Homo sapiens: one gene and its partners. The protein of the gene in region 3 purifies or fractionates together with the protein of the main gene of each other region. This does not show direct contact. Each region holds a gene or a part of one and is shown on either strand. Other genes may lie near its edges.

Region 1 (3,500 bases), on a different chromosome or scaffold from region 3:
ACTTTGGGAGACCAAGGTGTGATCACTTGAGGTCATAAGTTTGAGACCAGCCTAAACAACATAGTGAAACCTCATGTCTACTAAAAATACAAAATCTGCCAGGTGTGGTGGTGCATGCCTGTAATCCCAGCTACTTGGGAGGCTGAGGAAGAAGAATAGCTTGAACCCGGGAGGTGGAGGTTGCAGTGAGCCAAGATCGCACCACTGCACTCCAGCCTGGGCAACTAGAGTGAAACTCTGTCTCAAAAAAAAAAAAAAAAAAAAAAGAGAAGTTTCCTACACTGGGGAAATTCTTCTGCCTATAAGCATTTGTGTGCAATATGCCTTTAAGGTTGGTCTCACTTTATCTGCGGATAAGATTGGTTAAGAGAAAATTTCCTCATTTGTTTCACATGGCAACTGCAGAAAATAAAAATCATTTTATTGCATTGAGGGAAATATTTTATTGCATGAAGCGGGAGGCAAGTAGCCTGAAAACTCTGGCTACCACAAGCCCTGACCAGCTGCCAGAGGGTTGAAAGGAATCAATACCTTGGCAAAGAAAGACAATATAAATAGAACACAAAAACTCCTGTGCTGGTCATATTCTCATGTAATGTAAGTTCTTTGCAGCAGATGGAAAAGGGACATAGGTTCTCCTTCATACATTCTTGACAAACAGCAAACAAAATCCCAGCATTGTGTAGTTAAAAGCTTGCTGTGAGACACTTAGGCTTTGCTTAGTCTCACTTTCCTCATCTACAAAAACATACATAATTATAGTTGCCCTATTACACAAGATCATTCTGAAGATTAAAAGTAGAACATATGTGTTGATACTTAGAAAACAGGAAGCATTATAAAAATGAATTAACATACAAAATACCAAAATGGCAATATACCTCTAAAACAACTGTAAAATAAAACAACCTTCCAACACTAAAATATAGTTGTGACTAAATTACTTATTTCAGAAATACCAAGAAAGTCTCGCCAAAGGAGAATCACTCAGTATTGATTTATTGGTTCCTATAGTACATCCACATCTAAAACATCTTGGGGTCAAATGTGTTTTAGAATTCAGAAGTTTTTAAATTTTAGAAATACAGTACATGTACTGTATATTATGAAACATCTCACCAGAGTGTGAGGAAACACCCTGCAGTCAAATCCGTTAATGTTTCTGTAGCAAAATATAAAAAATTCATACCAAGCAGAATTTGAAAACAACCCCACAAAACTACGAATATCTGCTATATTCTTACACCAGTTTAGGTCAGGTTTTGCTAAAAAATTACCTTGCACTAAACATAAGAAAATGTTTCAGTTTTTGAAACTACCCGGATTTCAGAAGTACATATAAAAGACTATGAAGTTGTACTCAAAGATTATTTGTGGCCAGGTATGGTGGCTTGTGCCTGTAATCCTAGGTACTTGGGAGGCTGAGGTGGGAAGACAGCTCAGGGCCAGGAGTTTGAGACCAGCCTGGGCAACATAGCGAGACCCCATCTCAAAAAATAAATTTAAAAGTAAAAAAAAAAAAAATGCCAATTTCAAATACTTTTATGAACATTTTAAGGGTACAATTTGTTTCTTAATGTACTTTAAGCAAATGAAAATAAAGAACACCTAACATGAAGTTTGGTAATGTTCCCAAAACATATTCTCCTTCTGATGTCACATGTTAACAGGTAGTTTTAACCTTTTAAGTTAGTCCAAAGGGACAAAAACATAATATATGTTTCAAAAACCGTAACATTCCATAAAATAAACTTTAGAAAAATATTTATTGTCCTCAAAGTGGCTAAAAGCTCATGGTATTCTGAAAGCTGCATCAAAACGACAATATACACTGCTTTTAAACTAAGAAAACTTTCCCTCAACTAGTATCTTTTAAAAAGACATTTATAAAGGTGTTATAGGACATACTAATGACCAATGATTCACTAAGCAGTTGGTCAATGGAACTGAGAAATATGGAAAGGCTTTTTGTACCATTTGTATTAAAATCCAATCAGACCAACTCTGACAAGAAGCTGGAAAACTGGGAAAGAAAACAGTTTGGATGCACAGCATTAAAGCATAACCAGCAAACTGCTCCCAACCCCGTGTCCCAATCGAGAACTTTTTACCTTTAGTGACTTGGCCCCTTTTTTGTCACCTGCAAACATGGATTTCTCATCAAAGTGCATGGGAAAGGACCTGATAAAATGATAGTATTGGATTAAGTTACACATGAAAAATCCACGTACTCTGTATCAGAAACCTGATAAAATTTTCTATCCTTATGAATATTTAAAATTCATTATTTACTCCGATGTAAGTTTTGGTAATGTAGAAAAGTGACAAACAGTTCACACATAAACTATTTCATAAAAGACTAAAGCAAGACACAGATGGCTGTTAAATTTAGTAAGACTGTAATGTTTTAAATAAATGACACAGGTAATCTAAAAAATTAACTGAAAACAATCTATGTAAAAAATAGGCAATATTCCCTTAATATTCTTTAAAAATTTAATACATAATTTACTTTAAACACTTTTTAATCTTTCTCTTCCAGGCTATTTTAAAAACCAGTTAACTCAAGTTTTCTTGACCAAGCGTTTTGTTTAAAAGGTTATATTCTAGAAGATAAGGCTAATGTTTCCTTACATATCCATCCCAATGCAAACACATGTATATTATCATCTAAATTTAAATATAGTGACTAGAGGCCAGGCGCGATGGCCCATGCCTCTAATCCCAGCACTTTGGGAGGCAGAGGAGGGTGCATCACTTGAGGCCAGGAGCTTGAGACCAGCCTGTCCAACATGGTGAAACCCTATCTCTACTAAAAATACAAAAATTAGCTGGGTGTGATGGCACACACCTGTAATCTCAGTTACTTAGAAGGCTGAGGCACAAGAATTGCTTGAACCTGGGAGGCAGAGGCTGCAGTGAGCCAAGATTGTGCCATTGCACTCCAGCCTGGGCAACAGAGCAAGCCTCTGTCTCAAAAATAAGTAAGTAAATAAAGTGACTAGAAGAATACAAAATTGGTAGAAAGACCATTAAAGTAGCACTAAATTTTGATACTACATAAAATTTAGTGATATTTTAAAGCACTATTCTCAAGTGTGAAAATTTCTGCAAAAGAAAGCCTTATTAATGCTTTTTCATCAACATTTTCAGAAATATTTTTAAATTCTGTTGTTCTATTGATCACTTTCCTTTTCTGTTCTACATCTCCCCTCGGTTAACTTTTAGGAGTCAGTTTTTGTGTACTTTAAGTGCTACCTCATTTGAATACAGAGAGGAGAATTTCAAATCACGGATAGTCAATTCTTACTTTGTATCTTGAAAGATATTCAGTAGAAGAGTTTTTGTGTCAGCATCTTCTTCTGCATTTCCAGTGTAAAGATCGACAATTGAGCGCTCAAAATATGGAGCCACCTTTGACAAAGCTCGAAGCTCAATCAAGTATAAAAAGTAAAGATTCTTGAGCCTTCTTGGACCTTCTCCCTTGGTTTCCACAGGGT
Region 2 (3,500 bases), on a different chromosome or scaffold from region 3:
AAGTAACAGTGACCTGACGCTGCCTGGGGCTAAGAAGAAATGGATGCCTGGTGCCAGACAGGAAAAAGGAAAAGCACAGGTGGGCAGGGAGAAGAGGCAGTGCCCTGAGAGAGGACAGAAACCCGCACTCCAGCACACACAGTGACAACACTGAGCCTGTGTTTTAGGAATTACCCGCAGCTTCCAAACCATACAGTGCTTTCTTCTGCTCCTCCTCCAGCTGCTGCTTGCTTTGCCTGCAAACAAAGCATCTGAAAGACAAGAATATCATCACCTTTTAAATATGGAGCTGCAGGTGCAGTGCGTATGCTTGGCACATATAGATGTATTTACATTCTTTTCACATACGAAAAAATTCCATTTCAAAGGCTTAACAAAATATTTTTTGGCATATTAATTAGAGGTTTCAGAATGAGACCTACTTTTACAATGACACATTCAACATGTCCTTCTCTAAAAGGTTTGGACATGAGGAGAAGCACAGCATGAGGACGCTGAGGTGCCACCTGGAGACGGTTTCTGCCTGGCCCTCCAGCTAACATAGCCTGGCTGGGAGAAATGACTGAGGCACTGGTTCCCCCAGCGGACTCCTGGGGTGAGGACTCATTTACTTTCAGAAAACAAATCATACAGGGTTTATCTGTTACAGTCAATAACAAGCAAATAACTCAGAACCATCAGCTTAGAACTTAGTCATTCGTCTAGCACGTCCTTCTGATCTTGGGGGCTGCCGGATTCACGCTGTCAAACAGGACACTGTTTGCACTGATGGAAATCGCTCATCAGCAGCCGAGTTCTTTAATGCACTGACGCAAACAGCATCTGCCTCTACATATTCTGATTTTATGGTCTCCAATTCTTCACTTAAAAAAGGAAAGGAGCTAGAAGGAGGTTCTGAAGTCTGCATGACTTAAAAGGAAAGGACGTGAGTGTCCTTCACAAAGGCGCAGCTGTCTCCACAGCCCCGTGTCCTCAGCCCCAGGCAGAGCAGAGACAGGATGACCATTCAGGCGCCCTCCATGGTCACTAGGGAGGTCATGCGGCCTGGGACAACTATGTTTAGATTTATTTAAGGTTCTATTTACACTGGTCGCATATTACTGAATACACTGTGTGGGGGTGGGGGCGGAGATATGCCAGGTGAAAGGAGTCCCTGCTTGTTCAGTGGCGTAGCCACCATTGCAGAGCCTGCAGTGGCCAAACTGGGGGACCAAATGTAAGGGGAGAGCGCAGCGTTTCCAGCTGTGTTGTCTGCACTCAGCCTCCCCTCCCCGGTGGGGCGCCTCTTTCCCTTTGCATCCCCTCTCCCTGGGCAGCTGCCCTGGCTCTGCCCCCCAACCCCTGGCACCAGCCCTTGTTGCCAGCCCGAGCCTTCTTGCTGAGGGTCCCTGCCTTCCTGTGGGGTTGAAGGCGTGGCTGGCCTGGGCTCTGCTAACCTTAGAGTGGGCTCCTGCCTTGGAGCATGGGGCTAACATGGGTGAGGGTCTCAGCCAGGGGTGTGGACAGGAGGGTGGCTGCTGAGAGTGCACACTTCAGCCAGCTCTACCAACGGTCCTGCCACCAGTGCCCTGCACACGCACAGTCACTGATAAGGTGTCTGCCATCCTTTCCTGCCTGCATTTCTCCTCCATCAGGCCCCTGCAGGGGGTAAAGGGAACCCCAGCAGGGAAAGACCCTGTGCTCAGCCCCCACTCCAACAGTGGGTGTGGGACCCTCCCCCAGAGTCCTCATCCCTGGCACAGCAGCAGCTGCCTGCGCAGGCCATGGGGACAGAGATGGGGACAGCAAGCCCCATGCACGCCTAGGCCATCATGGGCATCATAGGCATCGTGTGTCTGGGCACGCTACATCCGGCACCTTCCACCACATTTGGAAAATACTTCTGCATTCACCTTCCTAACCGTCCTGCTTCATTTCCCGTCATTTGCAAGAGAAACACACAAAGCAATGCACTTACCCTGCCCGGCAGGGCTTCCTATCCCTTGGAGATCCCACCGTGTGTTGTGCAGGGAGGAAGGACACTGTCCCTTCATAGCAGTGGTGGGAGAGGAAGGTCTTTAAACCTGGGAACAGAGTGCAGTGAAGAAAAAACATCCACAAGGGTCATTGCTTGGTTAGGATGCTGTGCTGGGCAGCTTCAGAAATGTCGCTGAGCGCGCATCTGCCTAAACCGTCTGCAGGAGGGAGAGGCCGGGCCTGCTTCAGGCCATGTCACCATTGAAGGCAGTGGCAGGGTCTCTGCCCTCCCTCAGGACAACAGCACGTCTAGTCATAGTGCTGGTGCCTTCTGACACCCAGTGATGCTGGGACAGCCAGGGCTATGGCCACTCTTGACGCTGGCAAAGTGGGGCCTTTGCCATTAGCCACCCCTCATAGCCTCGATGATGTGGCCTGTGGGCTCCAGTGGCTCAGGGTCATCCCCTCCACCTCTTCATGAGGGTCAGTGATGCCCCCACCTGCCTCAGGGCTTGGCCCCCACTGGGGTCAGCCACAGCCCCTGTGACGTCCTGAACAGCTCAGGACAGAGGCCAGGGCCGCTGCCACCCAAAGTCTGGGGCCACCCTCCAGGCAAACGTGTGCGCTGTCCACGGGGCTGCCAGCAGCCTGGCACCCGGGCTGTCTGGGAAACACCACCCAGCAGGACAGCAGGGACTGGGCAGGAGGCAGGAGAGGGGCCCCAGGGTGTCGTGGGCCACACCAGGAGCCAGGCCGTGTCCTGTGAGTCTCAGGGCGACTTCACTCCTCCGTGTCTGATGCTGGGGCTGGTGCTGCCCTGTATGACATCTGGTGTGGCAGTGACGGCCTGCAGGGCCGTCACACACAACCTTACCCCCGACACACAGAGGCCTCACATCCTCATCCGCAGATGGCAAGCCCACAGCCAAGTGTGCACCGCCCAGGGGTGGGGGAAGCTGCCGGCAAGAGCAGTCTGGCTCCTAGGACATCTGTGTGCCTGAAAGTCAGCTCCCGACTGTCCCTAGGACAGCCCCGTCTGTGGGTCTTGCACCTGGCATGGGCCAGGTGCCTGGAATGCACTCAGCGGGCGGGCCCTTCCAGGTGGCTGCAGCTCCGCCTCCCTGCAGAGTGGCTCTGGCCTCTCTCCCTGCTCCTCCCATGGGGGTCCCACAAGGACGTCGTGTCCACGGCCCTGGGAGGAGGCCGACCCACTGGTCAGCAACCTTCCAAGCCGGCTCCTCTCTCAAGTGCAGGGGGCAGGGGGGCAGCTGCCTCATCACCCAGACGCAGCCTCCAGGGTGGCGCCTCACCGACATCTGATGTCCCGGTTTCTGTCTGCCCCTAGATGGGCCCCAGATGTCCTACCGGCACCTAAAACTCCACGTGTCTCAACAGAGTGTGTCATTTCCACACGCTCATTCTCCTTCCATGCCCTCTGTGCTGCTCCAGAACAACCGGGTGCTTTCTGCCTCACAGCCACAGAACCCAAACCCGCTTTCCTGAGAGCATCTCAGGCCCTGTGGCCAGGATGGGGATCCAGAGAC
Region 3 (3,500 bases):
TTGCCTTGGGGATGGCTGTTTACTAAATGACTTGTAAAATCACATATCATCTGTTCTCTTTAACAATTTATGGCTGTGTGGGAACAGTGCCTAAATTTACATCATGATGCTGTTTGCCGCCCTGCTTGGGAGCAGATGGTAAGTATTTACTGTGAATGACCTTTTTTCCCCTTTAATTTTTATCACTTAGAGCTCTCCACTGCAGCATTGCCATATGTTGCACACAAAATGCAGTGGTTACTGGGTTATTATTTACAACTGGAGCTTGAAGGCATATCATGAACTGCAAGTAGATACTTGTCTGAGTTATTGGCTTGACATTGTATTCCACCAAGGCCAATACCAGATTATGACATCACAACCTCATAAGTATATAGTCAATCTTAATAGATTTTATTATACTTTTTCTGCCAAAATAAAAAATAGTTCCTACTTTCATGAAAAAACCCTTCACAGAAACAGTGCCTTTAGAAAACAGAATACTTGATTTTGCTAAAGGTCAGGAAAAAAAAGTGCCAAAGCACTATAATGAAGAAGCTGTCACCTTATAATGAGAATTTAGCCTTTTTACAGCATCGTCAAGTAACACTGGAATCTAAAAGGGATATGAAGAAAGATAATCTGTTCCATTTTAGTTAAGTTCAAGAAACTTTATTGATTTCTTAATCTCTGTCAGCTATTGCCCTATGGATACAAAGATGAAGAATGCAGAACTCTGGTTTGGGTTTGGGGTGTTCACAAGAGTCAAGGAAAATATAAAGCAGTGAGGACCCGGAATGAGAGTGCCTAGGATGCTGAAGGAGCACAATGAACCTGTTAGTGACACTGAGGAGGTGAGATAAGTGGAGGCAGGTAAACCTTTCTGGAAAGGATGATGATGTCATGAGGCAAGAAGAAGGCAACCAGATGAAGAAAGAGAAGTGTGAATAACACCAACCAAGGCACATATTCCCAGCTTGCAGGGAATGATAAAGATTGTAAACATTTGGATGCCACATCCACAGATAGGATATACAACCAATCTTCAGATTACAGTATATATTTTATTTAATTTTTGTTACTCAAAAGCAACAAAACCAACCAACCAGAACAAAAACAGGGCTAAAATAGTGATAGCAAGAAAAATTATTAAATTAATGGGTCTGGGTTGTGTTTGTACATGTTATATGGTAGGTAGTAATTGTTTAGCACAAACAAGACCCTGATGTTTCATTTTTTAAAATCAAATAATCTATAAATGAATGAGTGCATAAATGAATAAGTAAGTGAATGAATGAATATCAATAAGATGAGATGTTGACCAAGTGAAGAATTCTGCATTTGAAAGTAAAAATAGTGAAGACAAAAATTAGTAATGCAATGTTCACAATTACCAATTAATGAGTCAAAATCTTTCTTAAGCCATGTAGATAATTCATCTTTACAATGTGTAAATGGAAGCCACATTTGTAAATTGTCTAAATGTTCTTCTTTCTATTATCTGTCGTTAGTCTTTGCATGTGATAGGTGTTTCTCTATGAGATTTTCATAGGTAATGTTTAAAATAATGTAAAGAAGAAAGTTCAGTCTGTCAGCAAAAGATAGATTCTGTAAAGTGTGAACTTACTCAAATTGGGGTATTCTCATTCTTTCAAATAACATCGTGAAGGAAAGAAGGCTTAGGAGCCTAAAGCATAATATTTAACATTTGCAGGTTTGATTATGGTTTTCTCTCCCATTTTTATATTTTCCACACTGTGTATCACAGCATATTCTGTGATAATAATGAGATTGGTGCATAGACTTGCACATGTTGAAAGAAAGATGTTATTTTCATTTTGCCAGATTAATATGAACTGTATAGCAAAACAAAAGTATATGTCAAAAATGATATTTGCATTTGCCTATAATTGCTTAAGTAAATTTCCCCAGGACTTTTTCATTTAAACCTATGGCTAGAGTTTAAAGACAGGCAGGTAGGGATGGGAAGACATACAGATAAAGAGCTAGAAGAAAGAATTGATGTAAAGAAAATATTTTACAAGAGAAGAATAAAGTATGTTAAATTCAGGAATGGTAATATTTGGAGAGGAAAAAAGTTCTCAAGATATTCTTTCAGTTTTTTTCATTGCAGCCTCTGCATTGTTCTGGGTTCTTGAAATTGAGAATCTTGCTTTCCGCTGGAAATGAGGTCGCACAATAGACTGAATCACGAAATACAACCTGAGTGGCCCCTGGCCAGTATTTCAACTTGATCTTTAAGAAATAGGATTGTGCTAGCAGACATATTTCATACAAGACAGTGCCTAGGAGGTGTGATTAGAACTATTGAACTACAATAATGGTAAAAAGCCAAATGACATCTGGTACTTATATTCTCTGTGACTATCCTGGGAGATATTCTCAGAAAACAACAAAAAACAACTCATGAGTTAAAAAAAAATAAACTTACAATATATGATGGGCATAATGATATCACTTTCCATTTCACTGACAGGGTTCCTCACCAGGCAGCTGTAATTCCCAATGTCTTCCTTGGTTACTGGAGCAATATGAAGGGTATTGTTTTGGGGAGAAAAGGAGTAGGTGGAGCTGGTGTGGACAGGTCTCCCATTTTTTAGCCATTGGTAAGCTAGCCGAGTGCCCCCTTCCACATGGCATGTCAGGGTCATGTTCCCCACATACTCCACAGCCCCAGAGGGAGGATGAATCTGCACCACTGGCTTTGTGACAGGATCTGCAATATTAAGAGAGATATGAATGATTTTTTCTTTTCATGGAAATATAATAAAACCCTATGAGGTCTTTCAAATATGAACTCCTGGAGAAATTATTCCAGCATTTTACACTGTAAATGTAGACAGCTCAGGTAATAACTAAAGAAGAGAAGAGAATAAAAAGCCAGGGAAAATGCAAAATGACAAAATATGAGAATATCATTTATAGTCAGAGATAATCAAATTCCAGAACTTACTTTTCAAGGATGGTCTAATGAAGCCCTTTACTTTATAGGTGGCTGAGAATGTCAGCTTCCTTATTTCCTGTTCATTGTGCTTTCACCAACACCATAAAGGTACACTTTCACAGGCAAAATTTTTATGGTTATTCCCCTCTATTGATTTGTCCTAATGTCCCAATAGCAGCTGGTTGGGATGGATGTGGTGAACTCAAATTTCTATCATCTGCAAAATATACAGCTAACATATATACTATACTTTTGGGAAACTGAGGGATAATTTTAGTGAATCACATATGTAAAACTATTCTTTCTATGTATGTCATGAAGCAATTATAAACTTTAATTGCTTTGCATTTGTGTTGTAACATTATGTTAGGCACTTTAACAAACCAAAACCTACATTTATTTCAACACTGACTCAGTCTGAAAATAGGATAAAATATATTCTTGGGCTTTTATCAAATTAGAGAAAAAAATACAAATCCGATAGAAATTCCTGTTGGAAAGTCAAGTCATAGGAAAATAGTCTTATTTCATCATCTGCCACACAGTAGGCTCTTAA
Region 4 (3,500 bases), on a different chromosome or scaffold from region 3:
AAGCTAAGGACCAGTAAATGGAAGCCAGGTACAGAGATAACTAGTTAGTAGCTGCTGGACTCCATGCTCAACTCCCCGACCTATGCAATGAAGCAGCTGAAATAAATGACCTCCTGGGTACTTTCTTTTTGTCTCTAAAATTGTACGAATCACATCCATAGTTCTACCAGCCTCCCTTGCAGAGAGAAGAAAACCCTCACCAGCTACTTACAAAGAGCCTAAGAGTGTGGAGCCAGGAGGGATCCAGTTCTCCCTGATGCTGGAAGGTGACAAGTGATGTCTGACGGATATGAGTCCAGAAGTTGCGGGGGGCAAGGGGGCCTGGGAGGTCCCACTGCAGAATCAAGGTCTATTGCAAGCACTGAGTCAAAGATGGCTCACACTGGCCCCAGTTAAAAGAACAGAATCTGCAGCCCTTTACCCTTCTCAGGTCTGGTGGGGTAAAACTTAAAACTCCCCAGGGTCTTAAAGAACGGATCATAGCTGTTAACATTTACCAAGTGACAAGACTTTCTGGGCACTGTCAAGGCTACGTGGGGGTGACCATCTCTATTTTCCAGGTGGCTTCTGTCCTAAATGCTCCAGGGAGCCATCCAAGTTATTCAGAGAATCTACTTCCCCGGAACATGCCCTAATGTGGTACTTCAGCCCTGCCTCCCCCGAGCCAGGCAGGGCCCCTCGCAAGTGAGTCAGTGCTGGCTGGCAGAAAAGCCCCTGGATTCTTGGCTTCGTTCACATGTGCTTGGCCAGCGGGATACACATGCCACACCACTAGCTCCCTCCCAAGGCTTACTAAAATGTTTTAATGATTTCAAATCAAAAGAGAAGTCAACATTTCTCTTTCATTTTTCTACTTTTACGAAAGGAATCAGAAAAGAGAAAATGAAATGAATACTGAACACCCACTATGTACCAAGGATGCCCTAAGTAGAATTAATTTAGAACTATAGTGAGGAATTAATTCATTCCTCACTATAAACTTATGGGGGATAAGTTTTATTATTCCTTTTATGCAATGGAGAAACTGAGGCTCAAAGAGGTTAAGTACTTTACTCAAGGAAATGTAGCTAGCATGTAATAGTGCCTCAAGGTTTTTGGATATTAGAGAACAGGGTGGGAGGAAGTAAATAAGGGATTGATCAAGCCTGACTCCATCTGATGCAAACTCAATTTATCCAAACCAAGTAGATAAGGGTAAATCCAAGGTAACTCTGGTAACAAAAGAGGCTTGATTTGCAGTTCCATTGGTCAAAGATAGACCCTTGTGCCAGGGCATGTTGGCTCATACCTACAATCCCGGGACTTTGGGAGGCTGAGGCGGGAGTATCACCTGAGGTGGGGAGTTGAGACCAGACTGGCCAACATGGTGAAATTCCTCGTCTACTAAAAATACAAAAATTAGCTGGGTGTGGTGGTGCACGCCTGTAATCCCAGCTACTCAGGAGGCTAACGCATGAGAATTGCTTGAATTTGGGAGGTGGAGGTTGCAGTGAGCCGAGATTGCATCACTGCACTCCAGCCTGGGTGACGGAGTGAGACTCTGTCTCAAAACTAACTAACTAAAAGAAAGACCCTTGGAAGCAGACCACAGATGGGCCATCTAGGACACTGCATGGGGCACATTCCCAGAGCTGGGATAGAAGCAGTGCTTGCCAGAGGATGCCCCTAAACCCATATTCCACAACTTACTACATCCCGAAAATACACCTGATGCAGGCCTGTCACCCAGAAACGCACACCTGACCAAGAAAACCCAGGTCCCTTGCTAAGTGTCAGAATACTGAACAAGTTCTCAGGTTCCAATGGGAAAGAGTGGTGTCATGTTGAGATGGTTAAGCTTGCTTCGACTTGGCCACTCTGTCCCCAGAAAAGCCTGCCGCCTCCTCCCAGGTGTGGGCTGGCTGCAGACCGCCCTCTCTCAGCTCCCTGGTCAATGCACTTCAAATTCATCTGCCAGCTTCCCTCTTGTTCTTTCCCAAAAAAGGTACAAAAAGTCTCTTCCTCTCCTACCCCTCTGGCCCTCAAGTTTGACATCTGTAAAACAAGGATGTTAAGAAAACCTGGCCTCCTGGCACCAACTCCTGGAATAAGAAGTCAGCATACACCCCATGCCACCCGCCTGCAAAAAACACAGTGACACAGGCCACTAGTCCAACATGCTGTCTGGGACCCTGCCACCTCCTGCTTCACCTCAGTTTCTCATTCTACTAATTAATGAATTTTTCCAATCCCTTAGAAACAACTTCCTTCCTTCACTGCTTGACAGATAGATGTAACCTGCAGCCTTGCAGGTGTACACAGCAGCTTCCTCCAAGACCCTGCAGCTGGTTCCCCCCGCCCCGTCTCTCCAATATCAGCTAGGCTCCTGGGATTCATGCCTGCATGCAGAGGTCCTCGGTGGGGAGCAGAGAGGGGGCACATCTCAGTTTCCCACTCATCAGAGGGGGCTGAAATACTTGCCTTGCCTCCATCACAGGTGGTTATGAAGACTGAATGGGCTGCATGGGTGAAAGTGCCTGCTGTCTTCTCACTGGAGTACTGATCCAACATACAGGGTGGACAGTGTCTGGTGAGATAGCAGGGGCTGGACGGACCACGTGACCTTGAAGCTCTCCCACTTCTAAGAGAAAAACCTATGAATGTCAGATCTCCTTGTCCAAAAATTATGTAAGGAAAACTAGCTGACGAATTCATGGCCAAATCTTTTTATTCTTTCTGAGACAGAGTGTTGCTCTGTCACCCAAGCTAGAGTGCAGTGGCACGATCTCAACTCACTACAACCTCCATCCCCCAGACTCAAGTGATCCTCCCACCTCAGCCTCCCGAGAAGCTGGGCTAATTTTCTGTATATTTAATAAAAATGGGGTCTCACCATGTTGCCCATGCTGGTAATGAACTCCTGGGCTCAGGAGATCCACCTACAGTGGCCTCCCAAAGTGCTGGGATTACAGGCATGAGCCACCACACCCAGCCTGGGTCTTTTTATTCTTGTCCGCTGGAGACAGTATGAATTCACACCCTTCCACTTATGATCTTGCCACCCTGGGATAGTCACTTAACCGTTCTAAGCCTCGGTTTCCCACCTAGAGGAAGCCACATCACAGGTGATTATGAGGCTCAAATGGGTGGTGTGGGTGACTGTGCCCATTCTCTCCTCTCTAAAGTACCAACCAAATGTAAAGAATTATGCATTTGGATTTCAGATATAATATTAAGATATTTATAATTCTCTTTGTGTAGTGCTTTGAGTCACTCCTTAATAGCACTCTCAGGAGATTTGGTAATTGGCAGCAGAAGGACAGGAACTTCCAACCTTTCCAAAGGCATTTCTCACTCTCCATCTTCATGTCTTATATTCTAGACCTGTGGCCCACACAGTGGCCACTGCACACTTGAAATGTGGCTGGTGCTAACGGATATGCTATAAGTAAAAAGTATACACCGCATCTTAAAAACTTGTTATGAAAAAAATGTAAAGTATCTCATCAATAATTTCTATA
Region 5 (2,885 bases), on a different chromosome or scaffold from region 3:
TAGCAGAGGAGAAGGGTACTCAGGACAGATGAGCCTGGGGGAGGCCAACTCTATCTGGGCATCAACAATTCCGGCCAGGGCTGGTGATGTCAGGTTACTTTTTAAAGAAGAAGGCTTCCCTTCCAAACAGAAAGACAACACTTTGATTTGTGTGCCAGGTTCCCTGAAGGATAAATATGGTGAAGGATAGGCCAAGAGAAGGAAGAAGGGGAAGAGTGGCCTATCAAGGGAACACTGTGAGGGGCAGCTGGGCTCAAAAATGTCCCCTCTAATGTGTGTTCTCCTTCCCCCACCTCGAGAGCCTCCAGGGAGAAGCGGAGCTCTGGCTCTGCTGAGACAGCTGCTGAGATGATCACTGAGTCTGCTGGCAGCTCACATTTCAGCACATGGTACAACTTCTCAAAGGTTCTTTGGAACACCTGGGAGAGTTGCATGGTGGCAAACCCTTCCTCCCTAGGTCCTCGGGGATTTGGAAACAAGGACCCCAGACACAACAACCCTTTCAATATCACACAGGGGCCTCAGCCCCATTTATTTGCACAGCCAGGGGTTCCTGCCACAAACAGCAGTTTTCGATTATCAGTAGCTGTTTCCCTCTAGCCTGGGCAGGGGCTGAGAGAGACACACACAGAAATATGATATTTCAGACTCCTTTGAGATCTGAAGAAATCATTTCCTCCTTTCTTGCCATCTCCATAAGACCACCTCTGGAAGTATGCTATGCTCAACTTATACTCACACATACAGATTTGCTCATAGGTTGAACAGTGAAGTTTAAGTAAAACCCATTGCACAGACTGTTCCTTTCATCACAGACACAAAGAAGGTGAGAGTAAGATGCTATCAAGGAACTAGCCAATCTTGGACCAAGCGTACATGCTCCCTTCCTTCTTACTCCATGGAAGAGACTGCTCCATGGGCCTCTCCTGGACCTGTTGCCACGGGGAGATTTAGGAGGCCATCCAAGGAGTGACTGAGCCTTGGCCCTCTTCCATGGCTACAGGAATATTGTTCCTGCAGGTACTATCCAGATTTCAGCTCTAGATGTAACTGAAAAAACCTGAAACTCTGAGGAAAGGAATCTAAGGCTTATAGTGCTTGAGTACTGATGGGGAACAACTGCAGCGAACAGCACCAGGGAAGCTGGAGGATGCTCAGTAGGTGAATCGCATCTTTTGTGAGTAGCCCAGTTTGTCCAAGTTGGGATGGCAGGCCAGCTGCACCATTGGGGGTGGCCCACAAAGCAGTACCAGCACATCATCCCCTGGAGCGGGCAGGTGTTCCCGGATCATGTCGGCAGTCACAAAGCCCTTGCTGTAGGCCCAATCTGAAGTATGGGGAGAAGAAAGTACTTAATACTCCAGATACATGCTGGCAAGGGGGTGTGGTGCCATGAGACTGGGGAGGGCCCTGAAAGGCTCTGGAGAAAGTGTCAAGTGGTAGCAGCAGCTGGGAATGGGTATACTCAGCCTGCCTCAAGCTGAGCCTTAGCAGCACCGCCATCCCTGTCACCCACCTGGTAAACAGGAACCCAAAGGAAAGGGACCAGGAGATCACTGTGTCTGTGCACTCAGACTTCCGAGTTGGCAGTGTGAGGCAAGGTTGATTTCAATGAAGCCAGAATTCACAAAGGGGCAAGGCTTTGATTTTGACGATGAGGGGATAGTGGGATGTCCAGAAATGGGAAGGATACCTTTTGGGGGATGATCCAGAGTGAACCAGAGCTTAAAGCGATTGGGATAGCGGGCCTGCAGTTCCTCTAAGTCCTCCCGCAAGATGATATCCTTTTCTGTCTGAAATGCAAAGGGGAAGGAAAGTCTTTAGGAGTCTTCTCAGGCCCACATAAAAAGTTTTCTGCTATACAACTTTCCAACTAAGAAAAAGAATGTTAAGGGAAAGCAAAAGTTCTAGGAAATAAGCAAGACTTGCAGTGCTTTTAGGGAGTTAGGATGAGGAGAAGAGGGGAACAGCCTTTATCTACACATTATGAAGGAACAAAGATGAATATTTAACCAAGAAGATCTAAGTTTCTGTGCTCCAGACTAGATACCTTAAAAGTTTTCTTCTTTCCTTGGGGACCAGGGAAGGAATTTGATTCAGTGCTCTGTCCTTTTCCTCCTTATTGAAAGAGGACCCTGTGCCTTACAGAGGGGACCTTGGGCAGAGGCTAAAACAGGGCACTGGGCCAGTTCTGCCCATCCATACCACGTCTCTCAGCCCTACCCACACAGCAACTTTGAAGTCTTAGGGTGGAGGAAAACAAACCAACCTGGTTGGCAAAAAGCAGAAAGCACTGGGTTGGATCTTCAGGGACTTTCAGGATGGCCCGGATCAGCTGTAGCATTGGGGTGATTCCTGCATGAAGATACCCCACAGTGAAATGTAGTGGCCACACTCTCTGCCCTGTCCTGGCTCCTTAGCTGACCAGCCCTTTCATCTTCATTCTGCTCATTCACCACTCCACTCCATTTTCCTTTAGCATTCTCATCCTCTAAACTCTTCCTGCATATTCTCCAACATCTGTATTTCCGGGCACCCTTCAAATTCATCTAAGTTCATATTGTAGAAATCTTTCTTAGGAACTAATCTAAGACTCTTCTGAAAGTCCTTTGGAGGCTAGGACTCCAGTGTCACAAATGACTACAAGTACCTCCGGATTCAATGATGAGGGTTCTAGAACACTGTATTTGCAGAGGTTAAGTGCATGTACTTAGGCACTAGGCAGAGCCAAATACTAATTTTGCTCCAGGCCATTACCAGTGAAATAACCCTGTGGAAATCATTTAGCCTCTCTGGAACCCCATTGTCTCTCTGTAAAAGGAAAAGGCTAGTACCTACTTCATAGATACCTATATATGTGTCTAATTTTTGTGTCTAATATATAG
Region 6 (3,402 bases), on a different chromosome or scaffold from region 3:
ATCTTGTTATCAGGTCAGCAGCGGCCATGGGGGTTTTTCTCCATCCTCCCTATCTTCACCCCCATTTTTTGTTTGTTTGTTTGTTTTTGAGATGGAGTTTCACTCTTGTCGCCCAGGTTGGAGTGCAATGGCGTGATCTCGGCTCACTGCAACCTCCACCTCCAGTGATTCAAGTAATTCTCCTGCCTCAGCCTCCCGATTAGCTGGGATTACAGGCATGAGCCACCAGGCCCGGCCCTCACCCCCATTTTGTACACTCTCTGCCATTCATTTACCCTGACAACTTACCGTCCTTCACAATCCAATGGTACTGCTTTCCATAAGAGATGCTCCAACCTCATCCTCACCACTTCTTGCCACCCAGCTGTTCCTCTCCCCACATTTCCTGTATGACATCCAGCACCTCCATCCTCCATCCTTTGCCATCCCATAGTGCAACCAGCTCTGCCCTTCCCAGCTCCTATTCACCATGATCCTCTGTCATCTTCCACTCTGTGCCATTTCGGGGCCCTACAGCACAACTCAACTCCATCACTGTCCATAGCTCATCAATGATGACTCATCTTCTACAACCCAATGGTGCCATCATCTTTCATCGTCCACCATCCAACACCATCATCTTCCACCATCCAATAACAGTGCCACTGCTACCACCCACTGCTGGTAACTCACTACCTTCTGCCGTCCCGAGTTCCACCCAACACCATCATCTTCCATCATCCACCACCATCCCCTCTTGGTAACTCATCCTTAACCATTCAGTGATGGCATCTTCCACTGACTGTCTTCATTCCCCACTACTCAACCATTCCTCTTTGCAGTCTCCTTTCCTACCACCCAGTGGTGCCATCCAACCACATCATTCTCTGCCATCTTCCATCCTTCACAACTCAATGGTGCCATTTTCCACCATCCATCACTAACAATTCATCACTCTCCACCATCCAAGGGTACCATCTTCCACTGACATTCTCCATTCCCCATCATCTGCCTTGTTCTAATCCCATCCTCCACCATCAAAATGGTGCCATCCAAAATTGTTATCCTCTGCCACCATTTGCCATCCAATGTACCATCTTTCCCTGATGTTTTACATTTTCTAAAATCTCCTTTCCCAACCCCATCTTCCTCAATCTTGTACCACCCATTGGTTTATACCATTGACTATTGTTTACTGTCCTTTCTTAGTCCTAGTATTTCCCATTGATTTTCTCCACCCCCTGCTGGCCAAACATTTGCCCTTCTCCAATTCTGTCTTCCTCCATCCATCACTGATAAAGCATCACCCTTCACTGACCCAAACTACCACATTCCACTGACATTCTCCATCCTGTTATGCGAATGTTCTTCTCTCCAATTCCAGATTCCACCCCTCCAAGGGCACCATCTTGCACTGCTCACAGCACAATGCCCGGTGATTGCTGTTCATTCAGCAGCCTTCACCATCCTTTGGCATCATCTTGGCCAACATTCCCCATCCTCTATCATCCCCTCACTGCGTTCTCTACCATCGTCGATCTTCCACCACTAACTTTGATCCTTTGTCACCCAACAGGGCCACCTTCCACTATGAGTCTTCATCTGTTGCCACCTAATACCTGGCCTTTCTCCCTCCACCTGACACTGCAGTCCTTCATTGAGCCAACACCATCCATACTCATCTCTCCTCACCCAACGGTGCCAGTCCCCACCATCTGACTCTCCTTGTCCACCGTCTACCACCCCTCACCCTCAATCCCTCAAGTCCCTTTCAGCCCTTTAACATCATCCTCCACAGGTGGCTGCTTCCAGAGGAAAGCCCCATTCACTTCCTTGAATATCATCCCCTGGGGCCATGTTCCCTAGTGAGTGGAGACACTGCAGGGTCAGCACAGAGATAAGACCCTCTCTTCCACCTATGTGGCAGTAGAAGCAAGTGGCCAACTGGTCAGCTGACACTTCTCCTGATTCCCAATGCTTATGCCTAACCCTTGGCCTTTGTATCCATCACCAACCAGGGCAGCCCTTTCCAGATCACTAAGGCTCCAGCCCCTCCCGCCAGTCTGTCTCTTCACTCACCCGGGCATCTGTGACCTTGAACTCTCGCAGGATATACTGAGGCATGTTGTATTCTGCCATCGGATCTACCACAAAGTACTGGTAGCGGGCAGAGCGCTCGGCCGGCCAGTACTGGTGACACTTCTCCTGTGGAGGAGATGGCGGCCGTGGTCAGCGCTGTCTGAGCCACAGTCTGGCCCTCGCCCTTCCCTGCTGTGGCCCCTAGCTCACCCGGCCCATCTCCCGCAGCTTGGTCAGCATCACCACGATCGTCGAATTGTTCTCCCACAGCATGCGCCAGAAGTCTTCCGTGGTCTCCGCCAGCGGCCCCTGTGTCGCGATGTAGGCCTTCTGCTGCCTGCAGGCGTTGGGGGTATGAGCCCAGGGCCGGCAGGGAGACCCGGCGTGGTACTCACCTGATGCTGCCCGGGAGGGTCAGGACCAAGCCAGTGACAGCTACACCTACCACCCCACTGCCTGCCAGGAATGGCTGCTGGGTGCACCACTTCCCCTCCTGGTGATCCCATTTTGCATGTGGGGAAACCACCAGTCTCATGACAAATTCAAATCCCTTGACAAAGCTGCGGGACTATCCACTAACCTCTCCTGATTTCTTCCCTCCATCTCCTTCAAGGGCCACTGCCCTACTTTCAGTTGCTTGCGTGGGCCAAGCTCTCAGCCCCGGGCCTTTGCACATGTGGCACCCTCTGCCAGGAACACCCTCCCCTCCTTTGCCAGGATTTCTCAATCTCAGTGCTATTGACATTTGGCGCTGGATTGTTCTCTGAGACAAGCTGTTCTGTGTACTGTAGGATGCTGAGCAGCATGCCTGGTCCCCACCCAGGCAGTACCAGTAGTACTCATGAAAATAAGAAATATCCTCAGGGTGTCAGAATTACCCCAATTGAGAACCACTGATAGAACAGATGGAATCACATTATGGACAGCAGCCATCAGTTAAACACACACCCAAAGATTCACGGACAGCAGCCATCAGTTAAATATACATCTAAAGATGTGTATTTAAACAGCTCAGGGCTACCAGTATCTCCCCAGCTCTGTCTCCCACAAGACTGGAGGCCTCTTGAGAGTAGAGATGGGCTCCTTCTGGGGCCCTGAGGTGGGAAAGGCATGGCACCTACCTGTAGCCATCAATGAAGCTGGCGTTGATGTAGTCAGAGCCCTCCACACCCCGGATGGGTTGCAGACAGACCCGTGTGCTCTCATAGGGCATGATGTTCACCAGGCGGTTCTTGAACTTGTTACAAGGCAGATTGGCACTGATGAAGCGTGACGTGTGGGCCTTGGAGTTAGCCAGCCGCTGTGGGGAGGAGGAAGCCAGAGGCCACCATCAGGATGAGGAAG
Region 7 (3,500 bases), on a different chromosome or scaffold from region 3:
GTATGCAGTAAGTGCAGCTTTCTTTCCAGTGTTAAAACAACCCACCTCAGGTGTCCCTGCATTATTTATATGTAACATATCTTCATACTTGAATTACTCAAATTTTGAGCTCCATGGTTATGATTATGATATGCCAGTTGATTTACATTATAACAACAGATGGTAATGGTGCAGGTTGAAATAAAAGATCATTAAGATAAATATTTTAGCCTTCATTGGCTCCCTGTTGCATAAAATTTGTCAGAATGAAATAGAATCATGGCATTTCAGAATTGGAAGAGTCCTTAGAGATTATCTCATCCAGTCCCTTATTTGACAGAGGAGAAAACAGAAACCCAGAGAGAATGCTGCTTGCCAAGGTCGTACAGCTAGTTAGTGGCAAAGCTAGGACCAAAATCTAGGTCTGCTATTTACCAATTCATTGCTTTTTCTGCTGTCTCTGTGTGAGATTTTTAGGTACTGTTCCATCTAATTACTCCCCAATGTCAGCACCAATTATTCTAATTAACATCTATTCATTCTGGAACATACGCACTTTCACCCCATTATGAATCTCAGTTGGTTAAACTTTGTATCTGGCTTTCTTTTAGGTTCTCTACTCACATCTTTTAATCTTGAAGACTAGAAAATATAACTGGATCTACCACTTGTTTGGAAAATTTCTCTACCAAGCAATAAATTACCCGCTGTGCTTTTGTTGTAGTGTAGAAGTTTTTGAGTTCTCCAAATCTAAACAAGATTTTGTCCCATTTTCCCATGAAGCTACATTGTTGCTTATTCACTTTAGTGGCAAGTATTATTGTGCCAGCTGCTTTTGTTTTGGAAGATGTGGACTTCGACCAAATGGTTTCACTGGAAGCAAATCGTAGTTCTTACAATGCATCCTTTCCCTCAAGCTTTGAACTCTCAGCAAGTTCCCACTCGGATGATGATGTCATCATAGCCAAAGAGGGAACTAGCGTTTCAATTGAGTGTCTTCTCACAGCCAGTCACTATGAAGATGTCCATTGGCACAATTCAAAAGGACAGCAACTGGATGGCAGAAGCAGAGGTAATTGGTCAGGGTATAATTAATCAAGGTTACTCATTTCCTGTTCTGTCTTCTTATTTTTTAACACGTTAAACAAAAAGTCTCAAAGATAAGGTGCCAAGGTGAATAGTTTAAAACATTTGAAAGGTCTGGAGTGTTGTACCTATCAGAAAATGCAAAGTAATTATAATTGTTTAACCAGAAGAAGAAAAAAAAGAATCATTCTAAATTTAAAAGATGTTCACATGATGACAATGAGCTATTTTCTCTCCTGATCAGTTGGTTTTCTTCTTCATTGAAGGTAGAGTAAATCAGGGCTGCTGCATACAGCTGTACAGGTGGTATACAACACAACTCTGGGAGCACCCTTCACCTAGACTACTATGTCAGTAGTACAGTGTGGTGGCCCTGTGTGAATACATCCAGAAGGTTTTTGGCTAGACTTAAGAAAATTTGTTATAAATAAAAAAGTTTTGCTCTGAAATTAGTTACTATAAACTTTAGAGGAAATCCAGGACATTTTTGAAAATGAGTATCAATCTGTGCATAAAACTTTGACGTCAGGTCTCAGAGAATTAGAAGGGCACTATGGAACTTGTAAGCCCTTCCAGCTCTTTTTTTTTTTTTTTTTTTTTTGTATTCTATACCTTAATTTACTGGAAATGAGAAATTTTTTTTTGCATTTTTTGTTTATGTCTTAAAAATCACATAAACATAGTGTGTTCAAGGTCTACTTTTTGACAGATTTTTATTTAATTTTCCTATTCATGGATCTGTGAATATATCTTAATCCAGACTACTCCTAACCAGTGTTCTGTTATAAAGATCTTTTTGATGAGTACTTGAGTTATAATGGACCTCAAAAAGAAATCACCATGAAAAGCCAAAGGGATGAAGCTTAAATTCTAAGATCCTCACAAGCTACACTTTCAGAAATTTTTTTGTTAGGAAGATAGTGTAGCCTTCTGAAATAGAAAAGGATATTGGTTATTCATATTAGGCTGGAAAACACAAAAGGAGACAGGTGATACTTCCTTCAGACATATGCACTATTTTAATCTATAGACTGAGTGACTAGTCACCAAGGGATTGAAGAGTTTGAATTGTTAGGGTATTTTTAATCAGCATGTTTAAAATACATAACTATTGAATTAGAGTGATACCTGGAATGTGTACTTTGAACATGATTTGGGGTTCCATATTTGAACCCACTGAACCAGACTCCTATCTTCTCTGGGCTCTACGATATCCTGACCAAACACCTCTGAGATCTGAATTATTCATTCAGTGTCATCACTGTAGACTGACTGCATAAACAAAGCCTTAGGTTAAAACAAGACCAGCCAAGTGGAATGGCAGTTTTATTTTTCTATTTTGCCTTTACTTTGAAAACCACTAACATCTATCATTGATGCTTTCAGCAGCAGCTCTGGAAAATTGTATTAAATTTTATGAATCTCAAGTGAGAGGAGTTTAAAGAGCATGTCAGTCTAGTATAAGGTTCATAAATCTTGAGCTATTATCAGCAAGTGAGCTAGAGAGTTTAGATTGTGGTTGTAGTGCAATGGTTGATGAATGGAGTCTTTGTAGTTCATCATACCTTGGATTCAAGTGGTGTCGTTTTCATAGCTCTAAGTTCATAGAACAGAAGCTTATGGAAAATGGCTATATTCATAACTACATGTTTTCCTCTTTTTGTATTAGTGAAGTGATGGCTTTTAAATATATTAATACCTATAGGATTGAGATAAGTTTGGATGATGATGAAAATGGACAAAATCCAGAGTGCTTACTAATTTATGTGCCACTAAAATAATCCAGAACCATAGAATCTTGGGGATGAAAGAGATTTTGAAGATTGGGCACTCAAGTAATGCTTAACAAGCAGTCCGCTAACCTCCTCTGGGACACCTCCTCTAGTCATTGGAATGCATCCCCACACTGCAGGTTAGCCCATCCTTCCCATCTCTGAATGGCTTTCATAGTTAAAGCACAGAGTGCTTTGGGAATGTATCACAAAAGTAGGAATTATGCAGTCAGAGCCAAGTTATTGAAGGATGTGAATCAAGATGCGTAGTCAATATGCTTTGCTTTTCTTACACTTGTATACTTCTATATACGTGTTCCCTGAATGAAAATACCTTCACGTGTGGAAGAGAGGCAGTATGTTTTAGGTTGAAAATGGAAGCATAGGCATCTTAAGGGCAACTTTATTCTTTTTGCCAAGCTTTTCATTTACCATGACTTGTGAGATGTATTTTTTGGCCTGTGCTTCAGTTACTCTTGCCAGAAAATCAACAAAAGTTTCTTAACAACAACAACAAAAAATTGATATGTGCAAGGCATACCAGATTAGGCAGTTACTTCAACAAATGCATTAAATTGCTAGGATTTTTTAAAATAATTTCTTCTTGTTATATAATTTCACTATGGAAAGTGAGCAAACACAGTTAGAAGAAAATAAAAATTA

What was found.
Region 1: the proteins of HEPACAM2 (region 3) and ERO1B purify together in Homo sapiens (affinity purification with mass spectrometry; 3 studies listed by BioGRID and IntAct, with this or other methods). This does not show direct contact.
Region 2: the proteins of HEPACAM2 (region 3) and CERK purify together in Homo sapiens (affinity purification with mass spectrometry; 3 studies listed by BioGRID and IntAct, with this or other methods). This does not show direct contact.
Region 4: the proteins of HEPACAM2 (region 3) and FGFR1 purify together in Homo sapiens (affinity purification with mass spectrometry; 3 studies listed by BioGRID and IntAct, with this or other methods). This does not show direct contact.
Region 5: the proteins of HEPACAM2 (region 3) and CYB5R1 purify together in Homo sapiens (affinity purification with mass spectrometry; 3 studies listed by BioGRID and IntAct, with this or other methods). This does not show direct contact.
Region 6: the proteins of HEPACAM2 (region 3) and PTPRS purify together in Homo sapiens (affinity purification with mass spectrometry; 3 studies listed by BioGRID and IntAct, with this or other methods). This does not show direct contact.
Region 7: the proteins of HEPACAM2 (region 3) and MFAP3 purify together in Homo sapiens (affinity purification with mass spectrometry; 3 studies listed by BioGRID and IntAct, with this or other methods). This does not show direct contact.

What each region holds. Positions count from the first base shown.
Region 1 is NC_000001.11:236,222,959-236,226,458, forward strand, and holds part of ERO1B (ERO1-like protein beta precursor), read right to left. Parts: coding exon 3,311-3,500; intron 2,182-3,310; coding exon 2,112-2,181; intron 1-2,111.
Region 2 is NC_000022.11:46,693,253-46,696,752, forward strand, and holds part of CERK (ceramide kinase), read right to left. Parts: intron 2,064-3,500; coding exon 1,958-2,063; intron 252-1,957; coding exon 175-251; intron 1-174. UniProt on the Homo sapiens protein: Catalyzes specifically the phosphorylation of ceramide to form ceramide 1-phosphate.
Region 3 is NC_000007.14:93,212,970-93,216,469, forward strand, and holds part of HEPACAM2 (HEPACAM family member 2 isoform 1 precursor), read right to left. Parts: intron 2,717-3,500; coding exon 2,432-2,716; intron 1-2,431. UniProt on the Homo sapiens protein: Required during prometaphase for centrosome maturation.
Region 4 is NC_000008.11:38,458,636-38,462,135, forward strand, and holds part of FGFR1 (fibroblast growth factor receptor 1 isoform 1 precursor), read right to left. Parts: intron 2,621-3,500; exon of another isoform or gene 2,472-2,620; coding exon of another isoform or gene 2,461-2,471; intron 1-2,460. UniProt on the Homo sapiens protein: Tyrosine-protein kinase that acts as a cell-surface receptor for fibroblast growth factors and plays an essential role in the regulation of embryonic development, cell proliferation, differentiation and migration.
Region 5 is NC_000001.11:202,961,373-202,964,257, forward strand, and holds the end of CYB5R1 (NADH-cytochrome b5 reductase 1), read right to left. Parts: intron 2,356-2,885; coding exon 2,270-2,355; intron 1,794-2,269; coding exon 1,694-1,793; intron 1,328-1,693; coding exon 1,155-1,327; 3' UTR 501-1,154; downstream 1-500. UniProt on the Homo sapiens protein: NADH-cytochrome b5 reductases are involved in desaturation and elongation of fatty acids, cholesterol biosynthesis, drug metabolism, and, in erythrocyte, methemoglobin reduction.
Region 6 is NC_000019.10:5,208,411-5,211,812, forward strand, and holds part of PTPRS (receptor-type tyrosine-protein phosphatase S isoform 1 precursor), read right to left. Parts: intron 3,359-3,402; coding exon 3,180-3,358; intron 2,396-3,179; coding exon 2,269-2,395; intron 2,185-2,268; coding exon 2,059-2,184; intron 1-2,058. UniProt on the Homo sapiens protein: Cell surface receptor that binds to glycosaminoglycans, including chondroitin sulfate proteoglycans and heparan sulfate proteoglycan.
Region 7 is NC_000005.10:154,048,967-154,052,466, forward strand, and holds part of MFAP3 (microfibril-associated glycoprotein 3 isoform 1 precursor), read left to right. Parts: intron 1-590; 5' UTR 591-756; coding exon 757-1,051; intron 1,052-3,500. UniProt on the Homo sapiens protein: Component of the elastin-associated microfibrils.